Regions from separate parts of the Homo sapiens genome. Here region 1 is linked to region 2. Evidence: fine-mapped expression QTL. Tissue or cell type: whole blood. Region 2 holds a variant in brackets; the other region holds the start of a gene. All regions are shown on one strand. Distances are from middle to middle.

Region 1 (10,059 bases), 52 kb before region 2:
GAAAAGGAAGGTGTGTTTGACGGTCATGATACTTGTAGGAGAAGTGGCTGTTCCAGCTCTTTCGGAGTAAGAGACCAAGCCCAAATGGGAAGGGAGATAGCAGTGAGTTCAACAACTACTTACTGCAGGCTGCCCACACCGGGAGAACTAAAGTGGCGTCTGCAGGAGGTGCAAGCCATGAGGCCTCCCTCAACGTGCACCATCAACTCAGAGAGATGAGAGGCAAGGGCAAGGACGGCTACCACTGGTGTGAGGCATCTACGTCCCAGAGGGAGAGGAGAGCTTACTCGAAGCCACTTTGACAGAGCAGGGGACAGACGTTCCCCATCCTGACCCCTTGCACAGGAGTCTTGCCCTCCTCCATCAGAGGCAGCAGTGTGCCTTGAAGGCATGGCTAAAACAGAAACCGCCCCATGCACAGTGGGCCTTCACCCGCGTTTTAGTTTAGATTATCGCCTTCGTTTGACTTTAAAGTCAGTTTACCATGATGATCCATAACCTACTTCTTCCCTACACTTGTTTTTGTCAGATTGCTTGACTCAAGAATGGCCTTTATCCCCAGAATTGGAGGTAAAACAAAACAAAGACAACCCAGTTACTGCATGTATGTCTTAGGATGCTTTCAATGAAATTACGAGTGATAGAGACCTGACTCAAAGAAGCTTAACCTATAAAGCAGTGTAATAATTTACATAACCAGAAGTGCATGGTTGGCTGGCTCTAGAGCTGCTTATTCTAGTAGTTCCACAACCTAGCCATGGTCCTAAGTTCTTTCTCTACTTTTGCTGTGATGCCTTGAGCATCAACTCCTTTCTAGGCCTGGTTCCTAGCGTAATAGTGACCATCCATCCTGGTTTACTGGAAAGACCCAGTTTATCCCTTTTCCCCTGACATAGTTGTTAATAGCAACCCCTTTCACCCTCAGTAGCATCCTGCTTTAGGTGATCAACTATGTGGTCACCTGCATAATGTTTTTGCTGCCAGTTGCAAATGGAGTTACATTAGCCTCACATCCATCAGGAGAGGGAGGGATGCTCTCCTAGAGAGTAAGAACTTAGCTGGGAATCCCCAGCAAACCTCTCCTCTCATTTATTTGGCCCTAATTATAGCAAGAGGGATGCAATTTTTCTTAGCTCAAATAGACCTACCCTAAATATAGGATGAAATTCTAAGGTACATAGGTTTCACAGGAGAGGGATGGAAGTCTGAATATTAGTGTTCTGTTAGGAAAGAAAAATGGAGAATACAGAATACAGCAGCCACAAGCAAAGCCCTTTATAATGAGCTTGCTTCTTACTTGTGATAATTTCTCAAAAATCTCTATGAAATGCAATGCTCTACTGCTTGTGAGACTAGACAGAGCTACAACTGGACAATGAGAGGCTTCAATGCAGTGCAGGGATGGTACTTTATTATTCTTTGCTTTCTAGCAGGTAGCTTAGTACTTTAAAGTAATAGCTGTTCAGTATATACTTACTGATTGCCAAACTAAAGGACCAACTCACATATCCTTTGATCCAGTCTTTGCTAATTTTATCCAAAGTGCATAAAACAGTTCATAGGAAGTCCTCAGATGAAGAATACTGAAACTCCCCACCCCCATGCAGAGCGCAGTAGATGTCTCTGTCCCATCCAAAGAGTCAAAACCTTTCCCTCACCTCATGAGCTCTGAACATTCCTCAGGTAAAAATGTCATTCTCGTTGGACTGTTTCTCTGAATGCTTTCCATCCTCTTTCCCTAAACCTGGGTTTGATTTCGGTCCTCTGTGCTTCAGTTATCCCTTGCATTTTCTTCAGCATTTCTCCTTCTGCCTTGTGATTATGTTTTCAAATGCCTGCCTCATTCACTCAATCACCCAGTAAATATTATTAACCACGAAAACATTTGTAAAACAAAGTTTCCATTTTAAATACATTATTCCACTTCAGTAAAATATAGACCCCTTAAGAAGTTAAGAATCTCTTGAAAGCAATAGACAATTTCCCCAGATGCATTCACACCGGTGAGCATTAAACTGACATCTACAATTTCAGGGCTTTCAGGAACCCCTTGAGAAACCCACATGTTCATAAAGATGAGGTCAGATTGTGTTGGTGTACCCCAGGGTGAAGGGCTCAGCCACCAGCCCAATTCACACATGTCTTCTACAGAGTTCACCAAGTAATACTGGTTCAACCAACACCCGGGGCCTAACAACTCCAAAATCCTGGTCTGCAACTTAAATTTTGAACTCCAGATCTACTCTTCCAAATGCCTACTGGACAGCTCTACGCGGCTAATCAACAGGCACCTCCAATTCGAGATGTCTTAACCAGAACTCCCTGGAGCAGATACTGATGATGCACCACCCACATCCCTTGGGTGCTACCACTTTAATGTGCTCCACAGACATCCAGCTGCCAGGATCTTCTCTCTGTATTTGGGAAGGATCTTCTGCCTATGCTGGGTGGTAGGTTGGAATTGCCAGAAAATCAGCACCCCCTGGACTGCTCTTAACTAGCTTCTTCATCTCTGGAGTGGGTGCTTGGTATCCTGTCCAAGAGTTTGCCTGTGGGATTAAGCTCCAGTTGCTCACAGTGGTAACTGGCCTTGTGAACATGCCTCCCATTGATGGCTGTCCCTCTGGCTTCCTTCCCTCCTCCCCTACAGTGTTTCCTTCAGTTCCCAAATCAACTTTCTGCACTGGAATCCTTGTCTCAGGATATGCTTCTGGGGGAACCTACGACACTTGTCATTGCCAGCCCCAAATCTGCTTCTCTTCCTAGGGACCTCTATCTCAGTGACCACGCCCCCACCCACCCTGTCACCCAAGTCAGAAAACCAGGTGTCAGTCACCCTTACTCCTGTTTCCTCCATCATCAAGCCTTGTTGATTCTGCATCCCAAGTACCACCTGACTCAAGTTCCTACTCTTCATCTCTGCTGGCAGGACCAATCATTGCAACAGCCTCTCTTACCTGGTCTCCCTGCTGCCAATCTCACCTCCCTCTGATCAGCCCACCACACCAACCAACAGAGTGATCATTCCTCAATCCAAATCTTTCCTTGTCATTCCCTTGCTTAAAGCCTTTCAATGGTTCTCACTGACTGCAAGGAAAAGCTCCTTGACAGGACAGACCAGGGACTTCAAGTGACCTGTAGCTTCCCTTTCCCCCTCCTCTACTATTCCTCACAGCCTCTACTCTGGACTTACAAAAAATCTGCAGCCTCTAGATAGTGTTCTGCATCCCAGCTTCAGTTCCCTTCACTTATAATGCCTTTTGTTTACTTTGGAAACTTCTATTTGTCTCTCAGCACTCAGCAACTGTCACCATCTCTGGCAACCTTTTCTGACTTCCCTGCCCCATGCCATTCCCTATTCCTTCCCAGTGCAGGAATAGGCCCACTCCTTGGGTGTTCACCCAGCCTATTTTATAACTCACCATGTACCACACAATGTCAAATTGTATTATTAACAGTTCTTAATAATCTGTGAGCATACTGGGGTCAGAAACCATGTATTCACCATATCTCTAACCCACATCCTTAGCTCAGTGACTGTGCAGCTAGTAGGTGCTTAATAGATGTTTATTGGATAAACAAACTAATCGCTCATCTGGCAAGTATGTGGAAACTCGATTATAAGGAGATGCTGTATGAGAGAAGGAGGATATGGGTAAAAAGAATAAGATCTGGGATGGGAAATTTCTTGGGTACTTATTTAAAATCACCAAATATTACAATTACAGATCTCAAAAATCACCCTGACCCATCCTGGAAGATTTTGAGGTTGTTCTTTCCTGCTGTTTCGGCATGTTCCTTCTTCCCTCCATTTTCTTAGGCACCCCTTTAACTGTATGAACAAAATTATTCCACATTAATGTCCTATTTCTGTCCCAAAGCACCACCCCACACGCACACACAAATCCAGACCCACCCTTTATGAACCTTTTTTCCTTCCCTTTGCAAGGGCAGCCAGGATGAAAAGGCAGAAGGGTGCCACTGTATGTTTATTTGGGAATGGGGGCCATGAAGCCTATTTCTTCTGCATTAATCTGAATCAATATAATCTTTCCTGAAAACATAAGCACCTCAAAGGGCAGCAAATATGAATCACAACTGCCAGTGAGGATCAAACATTAACCCAGGGTTGTGATGAGGCCAACAAAAGAAATAGGCTAGTAATTGCCTTCCAGGATATCAATCCCTACCTTATACACACATACCCCCTCAACACACACAAAACCTTTATGGATCTTTCATCCATGAACTTGCCCAATTATAATTGCCCAGCTGTGTCTTTAGTTGGATTCAGGCTAGGTCTTGGCAACCGAGACCTCACATACCTTATCCAAGAACTTAGAACAGTTATGAGATCTATAGAGGAAGTCTTTGGTTGCTGAAATGATTGAAGACACATTCATAAATATTTCCACAGGTATCATTAATTAGTTGGGGCTGATTTTAAACCCCCCAAAACCTGATTGAAACAAGTAGAAACTGACACTTTCTGTTGATATTCATTATTATCAATTCTTAAACTTGCACTGTGTGTCTTTCCACCCCTGTGTGGTCTGGGTACTTCTTAATTTAACTCTTCTTTTTCAAAAGAGGAAATTCAGTATCAAGGAATGGTACTACCAGGGCTGACTTCTCCCTTAGGCATAGTAGACACAGTGCCTGGGGCTCATGTTTAGGGACCCACATAAATCTTTTAATTTCTTTTAAAATCAGAAGAAAAAATGAATTTTTAGGTTGAAGAAACTGTTTTAATATATAATGCTATTATATTCATCTTTACACAAATGCAATTGTAAAATGTAATTTGTAATATCTTTCTACGGAGGAAGGAGTCCACAAAGGCAAAAGTGCTCAAGACAGACATCATTCAGCCTCAGTTACTACCACCTTATGCTTGCAACACAACATAGTTAGAATACAGCCTTTCAAACACAAGTTCAGGCTCCCATACTAATTATAAACTGTGTTATAAAACTCAGATTTGATAAGAGGAAAGTCATGTTTAATACACACAGTATTGGAACTTCAGGGGGCTCGAGACTACCAAGAACAACTAGATTCATTTTATTCTCTGCTCTGATTAAATAATTTCTGCTCTGCTATTCTCTCTCAAATATCTTCATCCTGTTTTGATTAATAGAAAAAAATCTTTACATCTTTGGAGAATCATTAAACCAATTTGGTTGCTTCCTTGGCTGTCTCAAGAATTCTAAGGGTTTATTGTTTTCAGTTTTAAAATGATCAATAGTACAACTGACACCTACTACTTATTTACTGGTCAGCAATCATACAGTCACCGTCCCTGTAACTCCAGTTCTTTGCCCAGTATCTGGCAAACACTAGGCGCTTAATAAAGGTTAGATTGATACATGAATCACCTCTTGGATGGAAATTACATTACGTAGGTGGACTAATTTGATCTTTCCTAATCTCCCACCTTGTGAGAAGCATCCTCCACCGGTATCACAATTGGCATTTTCGGGTGATCGCTGAGCCCTTCCCACCTCCCCCGCTTCCATCAGCCAGCCACTTCCTCCCTTCTGGGCTCTGTTCCTCGCTCTTCTCCATCCTGGGGTCTGGAATGGTCCCCAGCCCGCCGGGAGGCAGTAGGGTCCCAGCTCCTCCGGCCCTCCCCCGGCGCTCCCCCCAAGGTCCTCCTCCCCGCCCCGACACCCCTTCTTCCTGGCACCCCGCGCCGCCCACGGCCACGCCCTCCCCGTGGGCGAGATCACCTGTCCCTCCTCCGCCGCCGCCTCCTCGGGTACCCTTTCGCCCCCCTCCTGCTCCCCCTCCTCCGCCGCCTCCCCCAAGCCCTCCCCTTCCCCGCCTCCTCCCACCCCTTGGTGTATATAGTAAAGGCCGGGCGCCGCACGCAGACACACACTCGCCAGGACACAGGCGCACACACGCTCACGCACAACCAGCAGCGGCGGCGGCGACAGCGACTCGGTGACAGCGGCGACGGCGGCTCCCACCGCGGCGCACCCCCTTCAGGCGGCCGGCGGCGAGGCCAGACCGGAGAGTTCCAGCACACTCGACCACCCCGCGGCTTCCTGGAGGCGGCGGCCGCGATTGCGAGGTAGTGGCCGCGGCGCCCCCGTGCGGGCCGGGGTCACCCCCGCCCTCCCCGCGCGGAGCTGCCACCGGGACGCAGGGGGCGCGCCGGGCTGGGCGCGCCTGGCGGGGCCCGGCGCCCGGGGAGGGGCCTGCTCCCGGGGGCAGGACGGCGCCCGGAGGCCGGGGCCGGCTGGGAGGGCCGGGCGGGGGCGGGGACGCGGGCCGAGGCCGCCGCCCGTGTGGCGCGCCGGGGCCCCGCTCCCGTTCCCGGCGCCGCGCACTGGCCGGCGGGGCCGGGGACTGCCGGGGAGGCGGCGCCGGCCGGCGGGGCGGGGGCCCCGAAGTGGGTTTCGGGCCGCCGCCCGCACTGGCATCGGGCGCAGAGGGCGGTGCACGGCGGACTCCGCGCCCAGGCACCGCACCGGGCAGTCTCCGGATCTGCCGTTCTGCCCCGGCCCGGAAAACCCGGCGCCTTCCAGGCCCTTCGAAAGATGGATTCTGTTGACGTATCTGGCGGCCCTGGCGAGCCTGGTGGAAAGTTGGGTTTTGCCAGATTGCGCCGGGCTCCTCTTTGTGACGCGCGGCCAGCCCCGCATCCCCCCCGGAGCCGGGTGAGTGTGCGTCGGCGCCCCGGGAGCCCCGGTGCCCCCCAATGCCCAGCCCCGGGGTGGCCGCACCAGCTCGGGCTTTCTGCCATGTTAGGCACCGAGCAACGTTCTCGCTGCATTTTTGCGTGCGTTTCAGTGGCGCCTTTTGCTGCGGAGGGAGTTATTGCTTCTCTCCGCGGTGGCTTTTTCGGGGTTGGGGTTGTGCTCTGTGTGTTTGCTTGTTTGCCATTTAAAGCCCGACTATTGTTCAGGATAAGCTCCGCCTGGGTGGGGAAATGGCATCCCACCACAGTTGCTGGCGAGGGGTAGAAATGTTGCCAAACAGCTGCTGCTTTGTGTTTCCCTATCAGAAGTCCTTGGAGTAGGTTTGGGGCACGACGGATGGATGGAGAGAGGGATGGGGCACGGAAGAAGAAGGTGGCTTTGGAGGAGCGGGTTGTTACCCACACCATGGCACTCACTCAGTCTCCCTTTCTGCCTGCCAAACTTTTATGAATATTCCTTTTGTGGCAGAGGGAAGCTTAATGAATTTAGCCCAGTTTTCCAAGGAAAAAGCAACCCAGCTTTAACAATGGTTTGAGAACTTAATCAATGAAAAAGGCAGGAGAGGAGGACAAGGAGGCGCCGACACCATATCGGGTATGTGGCTGCTGCTTGCAGAGTCAGGTAGGGGAGAGGTGGGGAGGGCACGGCGCAGCGTCTGGGTGACCGTGTTCCCGGAACTGTTGGTAGCTCTCACCTGTGCCCGCTGGTGCCACCCACCGTCGTGCCCCTATGTCGTGGGCTGTTCAGAACCCAGCGATGGGGTTTGAGGGGCGGCTTGCGGCAGTGCGCGGGCCGGCCCCCCTCATCTGGCGTTTTTAAGGATGTGTAAATATTTTGCTGAGGATAAGTGACATCAACAGAATGATATTCCGCAGAGCCCGGGTGTGCAGCGATGATAAATAGATATGGCCAAACAAAGTTTTGATAACCGCGTATTCTCATGGCTCTGTCTGTTTCATTTGGGTCTTTGTTTTTGTTGGTTTAGCATTATCTCGCATCCTCTGGTGTGATCCCTTTATTTAACTGATTCTTGGAAGCTTCTCTTTAGAACAGAGAGAAAAGCAGCCAGCAGGGAGAAAACAATTCTTAGCCTTGCAAGCATCAGGCAAGGTTTTCTGTGCTTTTCCCAGGGAATCTTTCCCACCGTTTTCTGGATGTCTCTCTTGCTCCTTTGGAGTCATCAGAATTGGTTGTTGGTGGACCGAGAGACTTGTGACAACTTTGAAAATGTGGTGTGGACATGCCTTTGTTACAGTAGAGGGGTGGCAAGGTGGGAGGGGGACAATACGGAAGGGGACAGTATGGAGGCTAGTTTTCTTCTCAAACGGGAACATGAGAAGCCAGGGGTGGGCTGGAAGGCAGAGAATTGTAAGATGGTGGCATCCCAGTTTCTCTGCCTCTTACAAGCCCAGAGAAGCCACCTGCCCCCACACCCCCACATACACACAGTCTCCTTCAAATGGGCACTCGCTTCTCGTCCTGACAGATGCCCACTAGAGGCATCCCCAGGGCAGCCCAGGCACTATGAACCAAGTCAGACTGGAACTTGGGGGTAGTGACTACTTTGGCACCAGCCCAGGGGACCATTCAGCCACCCGAGGGGGTTCCTTTATGATGAAAAAAAGCCAAGACCTCCAGTGGTGATGTTTTGCCCAGGAAAACCTGTTCATCTGAGGAACAAATGAAAAGACAGTTTTCCAAGCGATGCCGATCGCTGGGGTGAGAACACGGTTTGGTGGGCAGCTGGGGAAGAACTGTAAGACACATTTCAAAATCTTGTATCCAGAATACAGAGTCCCTGAAACAGGACCATCTGAACTACAAGAAAGAAAAATCAAAGACTGGAAGGTGTGTGAGGAGCTGTTGCTGGGAGTGCTCTAGCTGTAATGACCCAGAAGCTGAGGATAGGACTGGCCTCCCAAATCCATTGATCCAGAATGGAGATACTCTGGATGTGCAGAAAGCCCTGCACAGCGTGCTCCAAATTTATGATAAGAAAATAGGAAACGTCTGTTCTCTGGCTTCTCCCCTAAGCTTAGAATTTTGGAGAGGATGGTAGTGGAGGGAAATAAATTGGGAAGGGAACTAACATGTATTGTTGGCCTCTGTCTGCTAGGCACTTCACATGTGGTAAACCTTCTCAGCCACCCTGTGATGGAAGAATTATTTTACAGATAAGGAATCTGAGGCTCAGATAAATTTCCAGTTGTGTATCTGATTTCAGACTTTGGTGGTTATGATTTAAAGGGGCAACATGTCCCTATTCCCCTGCTCCAGGTCTCTTATTTATTTCTCTTAACCTGTCTGAACCTCAGTTTCCTTACCTACAAGATGGGAATAATCTTTCCCATCTCACATAGACGTTGTAAAGATTAAAGTGGGACACGTCAGCATGGAACCACGAAGGACTAAAACTGGAGTATGACACCAGGAACTCCAGGCCCCTAACCAAACATACAAATCTCTGGATCTCTTCCTGCTGGATCTTTCAGCCCCTCCACCTTGGCAAAATCTGGTACACAGTTGGTGGGGATTGGGGGGAAGGTGGAAGCCCACCAGTGGGCAACCCAGTCACCCACAGTGCATACTTATGTGCCAAGTAGATAGATCCGAAATACCCTGTGTCAGATGGACAGACTGTACCCTTTCATCTTGGAGTCCCCACCACCCAACTGTTGCTTAATAAATGAGAGTTGAGTGACTAAATGATGGCACTGATGGAGTGAATGGCAGTGGGGAGGGGGCTGTAGATCATTGTTAAGGGAGACCCAGCAAGGAGAGATCCAGAGATTTGTACGTTTGGTTGGGGGCCTGAAGTTCCTGGTGTCATATTCCAGTTTTAGCCCTTGGTAGCTCCATGCTGACAAGCCCCAGTTTAATCTTTACAAAATCCATGGGAGATGGGCAAGATTATTCCCATCTTGTAGGTGAGGAAACTAAGGCTCAGAAAGGTTAAGCAACTAACTCAAAGTCCACGAGGGACCAAAGGCTGGGTGAGGTATTTTTAACTAGAAACTGTCTCAAATAAACAAACACTCTATAGGAAAATGAGGAGGGAACTTGCTATGCAAATGTATCGTTAAAGCAAGCCCCGTAGCCCCCTTCCAACCAGGTGGTAGTCTTCAAACTCCTAGAAATTCTGGAGCCACCGAGGGAGCTGGGCTTTGAATCTATGTATGAGGAGCTCCTCAATGCTGCCTCCCTGAACAGAATATGAGGGAGACCTCAGAGAATGAGGGGGAAAGATGGCTAATTGCACTCTTCCCACACACAAAAGCCTGCGTGGGATTCTGAATTAAGCTTGATTTGGGGATCAGGGTGACATCCTTGCTGTAGAGTTGGCAGCTCT
Region 2 (10,059 bases):
ACGTGTGCACATGTATGTGTGCAAACACATGCATTCTGGAACTCTTCCCCCAATAAAATAGGAAATAATACCTATAATCGTTATTGCTAACTAGCCAGATGTTATACAGCCGATCTTTTTCCTTCCCCCACCCCAACTTCGTATTGTTTATGCTATATTAGCTCCAACCATGATACTTGCTTTAGGACACATACAGTGAGTTTTTAGGGACTTCAAAAGCCTCACCAACCCTAAGATTCTGCGGAGGATGTTGTTCTGCTTTTGACAAAACAGAATTCCAGAAAGAAGCTTCCCTGTCTAAAAGATGAGTACTCTTCACCCTCTCTTTCCTGCATTGTCTGTACTTCTCGGGTCGAGGTTATTATTATTATTATTATTATTATTATTAGGCAGCATGCAGCTGATGAAGTGAAGTAGTGTTTATTTATTGATTTTTGGTCCCCGAGTTGGAACACAAGATCACCAGAAAAGAAACTCCCTCTGTGACTCATCCCAGGAACATCTTGCATTCCAGCCAGCACAAATATGATTCAAAGAACTTTCTGGAGGGCCCCAGTTATATTTTAGCAAAGGAACACATTAGCTATGCTGACCATCTCTTGAACGTTTTGCTTTTGGAAAGATAGTCATCTCTGGCCCCCTCGTGTGTCTTGTTTTTTTTATAAGATCTTGAGTCACACCCCTTTTGAGCTGATTCCCCTGTAGTGTGAGCATTGTTATTATAAAGGAGTGTCTTCTTCACAGGGGTTACAGAAGGTACCACCAACTGGGGAAACATTTGGTCATGGTGGCCTAAATTAATGACATTTCGATATTCACATAAGCATTGAGACTTTCCAGGCCATGGCTGGTGTAGCAGACATTTGTCGGTGTCCTGCCATTTCCTGCCCAGACTGGCCTCTTATACACCAAATGCTACTTACTGCAAACATCCATGATGCTCCCTAAAGGTGTGAGTTTTTGGTTTTTGGTTTTTGTCTCAGGAGCACACTAGATCTGCATGCTGGGCTAGCTGGAAGTGCCAAGGAATGACTACATCCTCCAGGAGCAGCCCTTGGCCAGTGATGGATGGGGGCGGGTGAATAAACAGCCCAACTTCCTAGCCTCTCGGTTGAGATGACTCTGAGGTCTCCCCAGTGGAATTGAGCTTCAGTTGCCCACAGTGGTAACTTGTTTGATAAATTGGCTTCCTTGCTTTCCCTGTCTCACCACTTCACTCCTCTACTGGTGTTGTCTGGGATCTTCTCCCAAATAAATTACTTTCAGTTAATCCTTGCCTCAGGGTCTGTTTGTGGGGGAGCCCAAGCTAAGACAACTAGCTAGTTGAGTTCACCAAAACCCAACAGCCTCCTCTCTTCACTCCCCTTGCCCTGTTCATCACCATCGTTAGTAATGATTCAAAGCACATAATAGGTGATGGTCATGAAGTTGCCATTGTGGCTGTAGCGCTGCAGTAGGGTGTTGTGCATGGGAGTGCAGTCCTTTGAGAGCCCTAACTTCTGCATGGAAACCTGGTAAGACAGAAACCAGCGTTTCAGGAGGTAGCCAGTTCAGTAACAGGGCCCTGGACAACTTTGGATGCTGCTAAAATCTCTGCACCAGGGAGGCACGTACTCAGGAGGTTCATGTTGGGTGAGCAATAAGTGTTTGCTGATTGTGTCTGTAAAGGAATGAATAATTGACTCACATTCATGTCCTTCCTTAGTTCTGAGTGCTTAAGGGTCAAGGTCACGCCCCTGCCCCCTTTATTTGATCTCAGGTGCCTTCCAATGGGCCCCGCAAACTTAATCATAGTTGTCGGTTCTTATCTCTATGGAGAGATTTCAAGACAGCTAGGAAGGTTCCTCCCCATGACCAGTATCTGAAATGACTCAATTATAGTTTCATTTCTTTGTCCATAGCTTTATTACTGGCTGGATTATCTTTATTATACCAATAAAGGAACATAATACTTCAGCCTTATCAGTCATGCACCTCATTGAGAATGAGTTTATCAGCTTCTTTCTGGAAAACCCAATTTTGATGGGAGAAATCTAATAATTCTGACTATCCAAGGAGAGATTGGAGGAGCTGGCGGGTAGGCAAAAATAAATATTAGACACAGAAAGAAGGTACATTTAGATTTTTTTCCTGGGACTGATAACTCAGCCAAGCCACAAGGGGATGTGCTTGATGATTTTAGAGGCATAGGAGAAGTTCTGCCCAAATTTGGAGCACCTTCCCTAAGTACTTGCAGTACTCAGACTTGTAAACAATGCTATATTTTATTTTTTTTACCATGTCCTCACTGTGCTAAGAAGTTCCAGTCCTGTCTCTCCCTCCACCCTGCTGTCCTGCAACCAAGCTATTGTAGGTTACAGCATCCCCTTGTGGCCAGCTAAGTAACTCTCATTCAGTGTTTTCCTCACAGCTTTCCTCAGTTTCTCTGTGTTCTTTCACTCTTCTGTTATAGCTAACCAATCTTTCCTTTGGACCTACATGAACTTTTGAATCTTCTCTCCTTCGACTCTTGCCTAGTTACCTCAAAAAGGCTCTTTGCTTTCTCTCTCCCTCTTATCCTTACCCTCATCCTCTCCGCTTCCACTTCTTCCATGTTTTTGTGAGTGAGAAAATGAGCTTCATCGCCACTGAAAAGTAGGAGAGGAGAGCTACTTAAGCTCTCGTGCAAAGGAGAAGGAAAACTGAAGGATATGAAGTGAAATTATGTGCGGTCAATCAGCAGTAACTTCCGAACCCTTGAAAGTGCTCATGAGTCCATATTCAAGATACAAAAGGTTCTGGCCACCTTTTCTTTCTCCCCCAGGCTTTCAGTCTGAATGAGAAACAGATTTGTGTATTTATTTGTCTTCCCACTATATTTAATTTCTAACATTGGGAGAGCATTGTTTTCTGTTTTCACTTCAAATGCTCATTTCAGCTATGTTGGGTGTTAGGTGGGTTTTTGTGGGCTGGCCTGGAAACCTTCCCGTCAGGTGTAACACCAAGCTTATGGTAAGTGCCTTCTTAGTTCCTAGTAGCTGATTTTTACATGAATCTTTGAACAAACAGGGTTGCGAATGAATAAAGCCATTCAGGTGCAAAGGGAGCATGGGTGATACTACTCAAGATGCTCACAAGAAATATGGCCGGTGGATCTGATGATGCCAATGATGCCAATGGCACAATGATGATGATGGCACTGACAATGAGAATGATGGTGAAGATGAAGACTGTATCGACAGTGCTGACAACAATAATGCTAATGACATTGATGATGGTACCAGTGATGATGATGACAATACAATAATTGCCATGATTTACTGAGCACTTTCTGTGTGTCAGGCACTGTGCCAAGTACTTCACTTAGCTTATCTCCTTTAATCATTACAACCACCCAATGTGACAGGTTTTTTTTTTTAATCATTTTACACAGAGAGAAACTGAGGCTGAGAACTTACTTGCCCCAGGTCACACAGCTAGCAAAATTAGGCAGAGCTGAAGTTTGAACCTAGGCCTGTCTAAGTTCAAAGCTTATACTCCTAACCACTCTCATAGGGGGCCCAGGGCCCAGGGTGAGGCTGACACTGTCTCCATGCCAAAGGGTGGCAAGGGATTCACATGCATTAGAAGAAGGGGAAAATCTGAACTCCAGTTCTTTGTACTTCAGAAATCTGCACCCCTTCCTTCCAGTGACCCCTCAGAGGGTCTATTTCTGGCACACTGGTCTCTGGAAAATGTCCTGCTAATGACACAGGATTATAAACAGTCTTTTTCCCAGAACAAAAATTTAACCTTTGTATCTCAATCTAATTAGAAGTATTTTCTCTTCCAGAGGCAGGTTTTTTCCTCCTCTTTGTTCCAAATTTAAGAGGTTTCTTTGTTGCCAGAAAAATGTCCAAAAACCGTAGCTCTTTAAGATGATAGACCTTGGCCCAAGACCTTAAACGTGACCTGAGCTCCTGCATGAGATGGCTGTTCCAGCAGCAGCACCTGAGGGTGCTTGGGGTTCTGGGTGTCCAACCGAACTGTAGGGCATTGGCCCAATGCAGGGATGGGCACTTGCTGACTCTCACAGTCCCCTGTCCAGGTGAGTGTTCCCTACCACCACCAGCAGCTCTTTATGATTTTCTTCTGTGATGCTGAGGTTTGCCAAGACCTGAGGAAGGCAGTTCATTCCTGTTAGTATCAGGAGCAGCCATCTCTAGAAAATATACATTTGTTCCTTTCCTTAGAGAGATCCTTGCATGAATATCACCCCTTCCAGCTGTCTAGGGACTGGCATTCTTACCTTAGAGACTTACTCCTTTACCTCTGCAGGAAATGTGAGCCTTAAAGGAGCCCTGTTAAAAGCAGATAATCCTGGGATAATATGGATTTGGTTAATATCTTCAGAATGGAGCCAAGAGAGATGGCAACCTGCCTACAAAGAAAGTGGTATCAGGTTGGAGGAATAAGAGATGCATGCCTGGCACACAGTAGGTGCCCACATCATTTTTGAAAGAATGAATAAAAATGAATGGCCACAAATCTAGTTCCATACTGTAGCCCTGCAGTCAGGCCCGTGTGGGCCCCCAAACCCATCATAGATCCTTTGCGGGCAGGCTGAAGGTAGTAGGGGCTTGGAAAACCAGGCCTGGGAGCTGGTGGCGTCCTCCCTCCAATTCCTCCTTGGTGCTCCCACTTGCCCATCCTTTGGGGCCCACAGCAATTCCTCCTCCGGCAGCTCCTGGGAGGCTAGGTTTGACTCCTCCCCAGCAGGCACCACTGGCTCCAAGGAGGCCTGAGTGAGAGTAGGGCAGTCCCCCATGTTACAAAAGAGGAAACTGAGTCCCAGATGTATAAAACAACATTCCAACAGTCATGAAAAGTTCATGTGTGTCCTGAATCTCTTCATTTCAATGACTTATCTTTTGGATATCACTGAGTCAAGGCATGGGGGTGTTCTTTTTTTGAGCAAGCTCCTCACCTGTCAAACTTTTTGACATTTTGTTGGTTGAATAAAGCCATCCCACATACTTTGGCGTTAGATGCTGGTTCCAATAGAGATGTTCTAATCTTGGGTGACTGACTGTGCTGACTCTATAGCTCGTGTGTTAAACTCAAGTGCTCCTCAACATCCTTTGAAATGTGAAACAGAGGCAACAGGTGGGGTAATGTGCCTTTAAGGAAGGAGAACGGGTCTGGGAGTCAGTGTACTCTATGCTGTGTGAACTTGAGCAAGTCACTTCTCCTCTGAGCCTCAGGTTCCTGTTCTTCAAAACAAGAGGGGTGGGGCCGGGCACGGTGGCTCATGCCTGTAATCCCAGCACTTTGGGAAGTCGAGGTGGGAGGATTACTTGAGGCCAGGAGTTC[A/CA]AGACCAGCCTGGGTACCATAGTGAGATTCCAGTCTCAACAAAAATAAAAGTAAAAATCAGGTGGGCATTGTGGCACACACCTGTAGTCCCAGCTACTTAGGAGGCTGAGGCAGGAGGGTTGCTTGAGTCTTGGAGGTTGAGGGTGCAGTAAGTAATGATTGCACACTGTACTCCAGCCTGGGCAACAGAGTGAGACTCTCCCCCCAAAAACACAAAAAAACCCAGAAGGGGTAGGTTGGGCCAGTAACACTAAGACTTGTTAAGGCAGGGGCACCCTGGAAGTCTCCCTGGGCCCTGAGAGCTTCATTTCTCCTGCTGAGTTGTAACGTTTTCATTCTCACACTCCTATTAGAAAAAAAAAATTTTGAGCACTCCCCTTAACACACACACACATGCACACACATATATAATTAGATTTATATGCCTTCCTATATTTATTACATACACTATAAAATAAAAAACAGGAATTAAAAAGATTAGATGATAAAACAAACATAAATAAGTTTTATGATACCTCAGGGCATGACCTTACCTCCTCTCACTGGGAAGACCTTGGGCCCTCCTGCTGTTTATGGCCAGTTTCTGACGCTTGGCTCCACTTCTCCTATTTTTCACAAATATCAGATCAGAGATAATATTTGTACTCTGTCCTCCCTAACAGATCTTCCCCGTAGCCACTGTCCGTCCTCATGAAGTTTAGTCCCAGTTGCAATGTTTGTGGTCACTACTGTTTTCATAAATGAATTAGCGTGTCAGGGAACTCATCTGTAAAGCTAATCTGGGCATTCATATTCCCTTCAGAGGGCTGTGTAGACCTCTGGATGTAAAAGGCAGTCGACCATAAGGCAGGTGACTATTTTGTGTATTCCTCATATTTTAACCAATTTGAGACTACATTCATGTGGTAATTATGTTCACAGCTTTGGTAAAAAGGACCTGTACTGATGTTTAAAGCTTAGAAAATTTAACCACTGGGGCAAGTAATTGACAATTATTATACCCTATGGGGAGAGGAAAACCAGTTGTTACCCAGTTGGAATTACTTCTTAGATATTTAGTGCATCTCAAGTCCCGAATGGTAAAACCATGTACATGTAGAATTAAATGATGAAAATTATGCTTTTCTTACTTGGCTCATAGAGAGTGGCTGGTGATTTTTATGCAGAATTAGGTTAGTCATTGAAGGTTTGGTTTAAGTACTGAATGGAAAGCACAAAATAGACTCAGAATAGGGCATTGATGGAAGGGGCAAGATTCTTAGCAGAGGTCTCTGGGAAGTCAGCCTTGCAAGAGGGAGAGCCATCTCACGTCTTCCTGGGGGTGAGGGCACATGGGGAGACACTGCGGGGGCCGGGGGGGAAGAGGAGGGAGTTTGGTGTGTTGATAGCCTCAGTCTTTTCTGGGAAGTAAGAAGGAAGATGGGCGATTGAGAAGGTCAGCAGACCAGCAGTCGTGTGCTCTGGCCTTTAGATTAAGGGTCCGCAACCTCACTGTACATTAGAATCACCTGCTGCATCCTAGAATAATTAAATCAGAGTCTTAGGGGTAGGACCTAGGCATGGTTTTTTTTTTAAGTTCCAGATTACTCCAATGAATAGCAAAATCTGAGAACCAGTGGTAGACCAGCACTTCTCAGACTTTAATGTGCATACACATCTCCTGGGGCCCTGTTTGGAAGGCAGATTCTGATTCAGTGGGTCTGGGCTGTGGCCTGAGATTTGTATTTCTAGCAAGATCCTGGGTGCTGCTGCTGCTGCTGCTCCAAGGACCCCACTTTGAGCAACAAGGGCATCCAGGGGTATTCAATCTTTTGGCTTCCCTGGGCCACATTGGAAGAAGAATTGTCTTGGACCACACATAAAATACACTAATGATAGCTGATGAGATAAAAAAAAGAATTGCAAAAAAAATCTCATAATGTTTTAAGAAAGTTTACAAATTTGTGTGGGCCGCATTCAAAGCCGTCTGGGCCGCATGCGACCCTTGGGCCGCCAGTTGGACAAGCTTGGGTAGACAGTCCTACTTTGACTAGAAATAATTGATAGCCGTCTCCATGCTCCATAGAAACCAAAGCTGTTGATATTTTACAATTGGAAAACCCATATCTTGAGAAAATTTTCAGCATATGTTTTAAGATGTGATTGTTGTAGGGGAAGAAACTTACCTTGATAGATGGCTTAATTTAAAAAGCAAAATACTTGACCTCTAATTTAGGCTATTCTCCAAGTCCTAAAATCCACCTATTTGTTGGTTGCGGGCATCTAACACTGACCCATCAGAGCCTCCCGTGGCTGGTGAAGGTGAGTGGCTGCCATGTTCTCCCACCATGGCACCTGCGGGTCTGACCCTCTGCTCTTCCCGAAACAAGAGCCTGGTGACCTCTGTAAGAAGTGGCCTTGTGTAAGTTTTAGTCAGCCTTTTTGAGTTGCAGCTTACTCATCAATAAAAAGAGTCGGCAAGAGACTTGAGATGTCAGCTTTAATGTCCCTGCCCACCTTGACACTCCATGAGTGTATAAATGGTGTGCCTGCGACAAGAGGGTGAGGATGAGAACACCAGGCTCAGGAAGGCTTAGGCGTTCATTTGTGCACCAATTCATCCAGAAGATATTTCCTCAGCACCTACTAGTGCCAGATATGAGGTGGGAGACTATCCCCTGCTCCTGGAGAAAGAAGTAAATAAGAAATCCCAGTATGGGCTGGGCAGAGTCAGGACTAGACAAAGTCAAGTTGGGGTCCTTTGGGAGCCCAGTGAGGGTGGGGGATGATCTCAGAAGAAGCAACTTTAGAGCTGAACCCCTTAAGTCAGACAGATGAGCAGGAGTTGGCTGGGTGAAGGCTGAGGTGGGAGAGAGCTCCAGGCTAATGGTCAGACCCTAGGGAGACCGGCCTCTGGTATAATTAGATCTTTGCAATAATTAGATGAGGGGTTCAGATAACAGTTCTGTGACCCCATGATATGGTTTGGCTTTGTATCCCCACCCAAATCTCACGGCAAATTGTAATCTCCAGTGTTAGAGGTAGGGGCCTAGTGGGAGGTGATTGGACCATAGGACTTCCCCCTTGCTGTTCTTACGATAGAGTTCTCAACAAAATCTGCTTGTTTAAAAGTGTGTGGCACCTCCCCCCACCTCTTGCCGGCCACGTGAAGATGTGCTTCCTTCCCCTTCACCTTCTGCCATGATTGTAAGTTTCCTGATCCCCAGAAGCAGAAGCCTGTATGGCCCACAGAACCGTGAGCCAATTAAACCTCTTTTCTTAATAATAAATTACCCAGTCTCAGGTATGTCTTTATAGGAGTGTGAGAACAGATTAATACACCCCAAAAGTCTGCAAGCAGAGCTAGTCTCCCAGTCCCTCCCTACCTCCTCATCTGTCCTGGGCCCTGAGTCTTTTCCCCACTGTCTCCATACAGGGGGCACATGGGCTACATGGGGGTGAGGCCCTAGCAACTGGCTGCAAACCAAGATGGTGAGGTCTCCAGGGTCTCCAGCAACTTGCAGATCCAGGTTGCCTGCTTCCTACCCAGCCACACTGCCACTGTTTACTGACCTCCACTCCCACACCCCTGGGGATAATGGGGACAGGTGGAATGGATGGGTGCCCTCATTTAAACCCATTTGAAAATGTTTTGCAAAACGCAAACGAAATGTTCCCTGTCACCTCTGAAGAAATTCATGCCCCCTGGGCTTGAGCATCAACCGGCTCCTTTGATGCTCCTTGATTTGAAGAGGTCCCCCACCCACCCTAGGCCCAAGCTAATCAGCAGCTTGTCTGAGTGGGGAGATGGGCCTCCACCTTCTCTCCAGTCACTATCTGGCTACTTGGCTTGTCCTCAGGGACACAGACTCACCCTTTGAACCCACAATTCATGAGATAGTTTTGTATTCTTAGGGCATCGCCGAGGCTTCCAGTATTAGCCCCTGCAGCAGCAACACCCACTATGCTCCCACTGGATGCACCCAGACCACCTCAGCTGCTGACTCAGAGTCAGAGTGGGGTGCTTGCTGGCAGGTTGAACAGCAAGAGGAGGAGATGTAGTGAGAAAGACCGAACGAGGCTTTCTGGGAGGTGGGAGGGTGCATGATGAAGGCCAAGTTCATGTTCCTTTGCCTGGGTGTCCCAAGGCCAGCGCCATACTTGGTGGGGACTAGGTGGAGGCAGGCAAGCCTGTCTCAGGGCCAGCAGCTCTCTAGAGAAAAGCCCAGGGCTACTCTCAGGCCTGCTTTGGCTGAGTAGTCAGGCAGATCTGGAGCTGTCCTGTTGAAGGAGGTGGAAGTGAGGTTTGGGCCAGGGGTTTTTCCCCTTTGCCCTGAGATCCTGCATACTGCTCCCCTCTACCCACACCTTGGCCTGTCCTCTGTCCTTCATCCCACTGGGCCTCAGCGTTTTTCCCAGAGACTTGAGTCACAGCAGGGGATGCAAGGGCCTCTCTGTAGCTCATTGGTGCTGAGATGCCCTCCAACCCATGTGACATCTGTCTCTGGAAGGCAGGCTGGGGACAGGTGAGTAACCAGAAGTAGGCTGAGAGGATGGAGGCCCCTCAAGCCCTCCAGTAACAGAACCATAGCCACTTCGGGCTGCAGTCCCCAAGGACAGGAGGAACTCCGGTGACCAGAGGGACAGACGAGGCCCCTTGTGGGGGAAAAAAGAACAACAGTTCAATGACTTTACTGGGAAGGACCTGGCCTCCACTTTGAAGAAATGTGATGCTCTCATACTGTTTCC

Evidence for each region. PIP is the estimated chance that this variant, and not a neighbour inherited with it, causes the effect.
Region 1: RAI2 starts here. The variant in region 2 is fine-mapped to the expression of RAI2 in whole blood (TOPMed, PIP 0.94).

Annotation. Positions count from the first base shown.
Region 1 is chrX:17,857,118-17,867,176 of GRCh38, reverse strand. RAI2 (retinoic acid induced 2) reads left to right here and starts at 5,879. Exons shown (of 2, transcript NM_021785.6): 1 at 5,879-6,079.
Region 2 is chrX:17,805,264-17,815,322 of GRCh38, reverse strand. The region is part of intron 1 of RAI2 (retinoic acid induced 2); the gene reads left to right. Among named protein-coding and RNA genes, the nearest start is that of RAI2, 51 kb to the left of the region's middle. The variant A/CA (reference allele first, on the strand shown) is at 5,332.